Regions from separate parts of the Homo sapiens genome. Here region 1 is linked to region 2. Evidence: fine-mapped expression QTL. A gene starts in region 2. The other region holds a variant in brackets. All regions are shown on one strand. Distances are between the middles of the regions. Region 1 overlaps RGSL1 (regulator of G protein signaling like 1). Region 2 holds the start of RNASEL (ribonuclease L).

The links. PIP is the estimated chance that this variant, and not a neighbour inherited with it, causes the effect.
Region 1: its variant is the best candidate, but not a certain one, in a credible set for the expression of RNASEL in whole blood (INTERVAL, PIP 0.67).

Annotation. Positions count from the first base shown.
Region 1 is chr1:182,545,710-182,548,627 of GRCh38, reverse strand. It overlaps RGSL1 (regulator of G protein signaling like 1), which reads right to left. Exons shown (of 22, transcript NM_001137669.2): 16 at 173-311. Among named protein-coding and RNA genes, the nearest start is that of RNASEL, 42 kb to the left of the region's middle. The variant A/TA (reference allele first, on the strand shown) is at 1,245.
Region 2 is chr1:182,587,988-182,590,905 of GRCh38, reverse strand. It overlaps RNASEL (ribonuclease L), which reads left to right and starts at 1,650. Exons shown (of 7, transcript NM_021133.4): 1 at 1,650-1,739. RefSeq lists an enhancer at 1,775-1,934.

The sequences.
Region 1 (2,918 bases), 42 kb after region 2:
AACCCCATGACCACCCCCTCTCCAAAAGGCATACGGTTTTCATGGAGTTGCTAGGTAAAGGATATGTAGTTAGCCAGGACTTATGAGGTGCCTGACAATTAGCTTTCTAATTGTCCTTGTGGGGGAAATGCTTCTTGGTGAAAGGCCAGAGTGGAGTGGGAGTCTTTCTTACCCTCAGCTTTGGAGGGATGTCAGAATTCAGGAAGAGTTTTTGGATAATGTTCATTTTGGACCGCATTAGGATCACATCATTCTCATTATATGCCCGGTTGACCTGCAGCATGTGGGCTGAACTGACCAGATCATTAAATCTAAAAAAGAAATGTGAAGTAGGAAATCAGGAGGAGAAGATGAAAACAGTGACTAACAAGGCACCCAGCCTAGACTCATTTCTGGCCCAAAAAACGCAAGGCCAGTTCTAGGCCAGGTTGTGACTTTATTCATTCAGTCATAATTCATCCATTGGCAAATACTGAGCACTTATCACAGGTCAGATAACATGTTAAGTGCCCCTTCAAGTGAATGTCTTCACCACAAACCCCCTTGTTTATCCCACCTTCCCTCCTTTACCCATTCTGGCCCTACAGCATTGCACCTCTAATGACTTCAAGGCCTAAGGACTATCTTGCTCTTCCCTCTCCTGTGCTGACCTGAGGCAAGCCCTGAGATGCAGGCAGGTCCCACTCCTGTAGAGCACTTTAGGCAATGAGAGGAGGTTTGGACTTAATTCCAGTGGTAATGGGAAGCCAGTAGAACATTTTTTTTTTGAGATGGAGTCTCACTCTGTATCCCAGGCTGGAGTGCAGTGGTGTGATCTCGGCTCACTGCAAGCTTGGCCTCCCGGGTTCATGCCATTCTCCTGCCTCAGCCTCCTGAGTAGCTGGGACTACAGGCGTCTGCCACCACACCTGGCTAATTTTTTGTATTTTTAGTAGAGACGGGATTTCACCATGTTACCCAGGATGGTCTCGATCTCTTGACCTCGTGATCCACCCACCTCGGCCTCCCAAAGTGCTGGGACTACAGGCATGAGCCACCGCACCCTGCTGCCAGTGGAACATTTTAGGCAGGAGAATAATCTAGTCTGGTTTATGTTTTTAATAGGCTACGCTGGTTGCTATACAGAGAATAGTTTGTAGAGGTCAAGCAAGGAAGAAGACGCAATGTGGTGGGAATCGGAGCAGCAGCAGGTGAGGCTATTCACTCTGACTAGTATCTCCCTCTGCTCCTCCATTACCTCCCCC[A/TA]CATCCTTTATTATCTGACTAACCTCTACTCTTCCTTCAAAATTTAGCTTAGATTACCCAAGAATTTTGGGTCTCCCAAGAAACCATACCTGAGGACTTACTGTTGTCTAAATACACTTCCTATGCCTGATTCTCCCATAGCACCTATCATCCTGAGACACTTCCTAACTTTTGTTTGTGTCTTTTCTGCCATCCTCATTAGTTTGTGGGATCTTAGAAATAGAGAGCACGTCATAGTTGTTTTTTGTATATCCAATGTCAAAACCGGTGTTCAGTAAAGAGTGAGCAATCAACAAGCATCTGTGGAAATGAGCTAAATCCATCACTGGGGTGAGTAGAAGATCTCTTAACCAAACTCTTCTAACTGATGCATGAATTATCAGGTGTCTACATTTTTGAAAAACACACTGACTGATGCCCATGACATGCTGACTGCATAGATTAGTGGTACACCTTTAGTACATTCTCATCTTTCTCAAACTAGCAGAAGTGAATGTGTACCAGGAGGTGTGTTGCTTCCCAAGTATCTTTCCCTATTGTAAAGATAATTAGTAACTATAATTGCTATAATTAGTAACTTGTGAAAACTGATAAAATATGAACATTAAAGAAAAGTTATTATTTCTATGAAAACAAGTTAGAATGTTTTGGAAATTCTAATGAAGGCAAGTAGCTTTTTAAAAAAGTGTTGTTGGCTGGGTGCAGTGGCTCACACCTGTAATTCCAGGACTTTGAGAGGCTGAGGCAGGCGATCATGATGTCAGGAGATCGAGACCATCCTGGCCAACATGGTGAAACCACATCCCTACTAAAAATACAAAAATTAGCTGGGCGTGGTGGCATGTGCCTGTAGTCCCAGCTACTTGGGAGGCTGAGGCAAGAGAATCGCTTGAACCCAGGAGGTGGAGGTTTAAGTGAGCCAAGATGGTGCCACACTCCAGCCTGGCGACAGAGTGAGACTCCGTCTCATGAAAACAAAAACAAAATACTGTTGAGTTAGGTGTGGCCAGGCAGTTTAAAACATAAAAAAAAAAAAGGTATACAAAGCCAGAAGGATTAAATTGCTTCACAGTAATCTTTAAATTCTGTTCCACTTTAAAGAAATAAAAATTGAAATCAGTAGACAGACACTTTAGGTTCCAAAATGTTAGCATAGAAGCAAGTTGGCTTCATTCTCCCATATGGAAACTCAAAACAAACAAATAGTACTGAGATTTTTACCAGCACTATCTCAGAACTCAAATATAATGAGACAGAGGAGAAAAAAGTAAAAAGAATGAAAAGTAATGAAGACACCTACAAGATATAGAAAATTACTTCAAAAGAGCAAATCTAAAAATTATTGGTGTTCAAGAGGGAGTTGAGCAAGAGCAAGGAAAAGAAAACTTATTCAAAATAATAACAGAAAACATTCTAAAACTTGACAAAGACATACATGTTTAGGTACAGGAAGGCCAGAGAACATTAAATAAATTTGACCCAAATAAGACTACCCCAAGTATTATAGTAATCAACTCTTAAAGGTCGAGGACAGAGAGAGAATCCTAAAAGCAGAAAAAGAAGAAAATAACATATAAAGAAGCTCCAATTCACCTGGCAACAGACTTCTCAATGGAAACCATAAAGGCCAGGAAAATTTGAGAAAAAATTCTCAAAGTGCAAAAAAACCAAACC
Region 2 (2,918 bases):
ATCATGATATGTTGGGTTTTTCAACTGTTTATGATCTATTTCTGCCTATTAAGATGCAAGCTCCTAGAAGAACTCTGTGAGGAACTGGTGTGGTAAATCATTCTATGCCAGATATGCAGAATAGTCACTGGTAACATAGTCAGTGCTCAATAAGTTTTTTTTTTTTTTTTGAGACGGAGTCTTGCTCTGTCATCCAGGCTGGAGTGTAGTGGTACTATGTTGGCTCACTTCAACCTCCACCTCCCGGGTTCGAGCAATTCTCCTGCCTCAGCCTCCCGAGTAGCTGGGATTACAGGTGCACAACACCACACCTGGCTACTTTTTGTATTTTTAGTAGAGACGCGGTTTCACCATGTTGGCCAGGCTGGTCTTGAACTCCTGAACTCAGGTGATCTGCCTGCCTTGGCCTCCCAAAGTGCTGGGATTACAGGTGTGAGCCACCACGCCTGTCCAACAAGTATTAATTAAATGAATAATGGGTTAAGGATTTTTGAACTTTGTCCTGAAAATGATGGTGGGTCAATGATGCAGGGTGGAACAATGGATGAAGGGCTAGGAAGCAAGTCATCAATTTCTTGCTATAAATGATGACAAGGACTCGAATGGTCATCCCTTTGTAGATGAAAGCAAGAGACTTGGTGTTGGGATGAGGATGAGGGGTGGCCTCCGGGTGATGGTGCCATCTGTGGAGATGGAATAAGTGGGAGGAGGGGCAGATTTAGGAAAAGATGAGTATTTCCATTTGACACATATTCAAGATTTGTAGGTCTAAAGCTCAGCAGAGAGGCTGGGGTTAGAGAGCGAGGCCTGGGAATCCCTGGTGTATAAGGGGTGGTAGAGGCCCCGGGTCTGGATGGTGTGACACAGGTGGTCGTCAAGTGACCATGCACTACTTGTTGTTCACAAGTCCCAGGGCTTTGTCTCCCCAGCAAGACTGGGTATTCTTTGGGGATGGAAATACTTTCCACTACAGCACTAAGTACACAGTACACAGCTCATTGCTAGGAAGATAGTCAAGAACAGAACTTGTAGAGCAGAAAGGAACCTTCAAAACCAAGTTATAGGAGAGAACTGAGGCCCTACATGGTTAAATCACATGCCTGAGGTCACTCAGCTAAGCAGCCACAGAGCTGGCTGTAGGATCAGGTCTCCAGACTGCCAGTCCGGTACCCTTCTGAGAAGGCCGCACTGCCTCAGAGCTGTGAGTTGAGTGAGCTGAGAAAGGTGACAGGGCTTGGGCTTTGGGCTTACTTAGCTTCTATGAGCCTGCGTTTCATAATCAACAAGATTGTCAGGGGTTAACTGGGACCATGCTGCATGTAAAGCATTGTGTCTGGAACACAATAGGTGCTCAATATGTGTTTACTTTCCATTCCTTTCTTCCAAGAAGACCAGAATTTGCAATGACAAAGAAAGGATGCAAGAGTGATGGATGCAGTTGGCTGCTGCCACCTGAAAGGCTGCAAGACTGAGAGGTGAGTGACATGACCCCGGGCATCACATTCCTCATCAGCAGACAGAAAGTGGCTATTGCTTTCCTCCAGAAGGTGTGCAAGTAGAAGCTTTGCTCCTGGTGCCAGAGTGAGCCTGTGGCTGCTTTCCCTCCCACACTCCTCACTCCTTTCTTGGCTCCGCCCTGCTGACTCAGTGACGCAGCAGGAGGAAACTGCTCGGGCTGCAAGCAGTCTTCCAGGCTTTGCGGCTGCCAAAGGAATAATTGAGACGTCTGAGTTGAGCAGGTAAGGCAGGCAGAAGGAGGAAAGCTAGAAAACCTCGATAAGTCGATCCTGAAGAATTCTTGGGCTTTGGAGACTGGAGAGGCCAGGGGCTGGAGGACTTGGGAAGTGGGAGGGGAGCTCCCAGCCCTTGGCTGCCCGGAAGGATCTTCCTCCAGTGCCCTTCCAGAGTTCTGTCAGAGTCCACACGTCATTTATCCATGTCCTCAGTTTCTCAGGCATCTCTTTGCGACTTACTCAGGTCGCACAGAGAAAGTGAAATTGAAAGCAGGATTGTCTGTTGGAGTACTTCCGCAGGCTCGTCTCTTCTCTACTCTGATGCGTCACTCAGGGCTTCCTTGATATTTCCTCTCCTTCCCGGCTCCTTTGTTTATACCAGCCCACCTCACATCTGATTGTAATGGGGACGGTCTACACAAACACTTTGGTTCAAAGATTTCATTGCCTGGTGATCGTGTATGTGTTGCACAATTAATTAAACTTCTAAGAGGCTAATCAATTAACCTCTGAGGCTTTGAAACTGTCAGAGTGGTGAGATTGCTGAAAAAGGGTTGCTTCGTGAATTCTATAGCAGATGCAGTTATTTAAATATTCAGGTAACAGTTTCGGGCTGTCTGATGATTGAACTGGATCTGTAATTCTCAGATCTGATTGACAGTTGGACGAAATTGATAGCTGCCAGTTGCCTATTCGTGTAGTAGCTATATGCACATGTGTAGGGAGAATAGAATTCACTAAGCAATTTATTTTTTCATAACGGGATATAATTAGCTCTAACATTCATTGAGTGGCTAATATTTGCAACACTCCATACTTTAATGTACTTTACACACATGACTGTATTTATTTTTGTCTCCATTTCAGGAAATAGAAAATTGAGATTCAACAATCCAAGGTTACAGGAAGTAATAGTAAAAAATTACACAGCCACAAGCTCAAACTTAGATCTCCCTAAGGTCAGAGTACAAGCTCTTTTCACTACTGCAGATACTCCTTGACTTATGATGGGGTTACATACAGATAAACCCATCCTAAATTGAAAATATTGTAGGTCAAAAGCACATTTAATACACCTAATCTACTGAACGTCATAGCTTATCCTAGCTTACCTTAAATGTGCTCAGAACACTTACATTAGGCTACAGTTGGGCAAAATCATCTAGCTCAAAGCTTATTTTATAA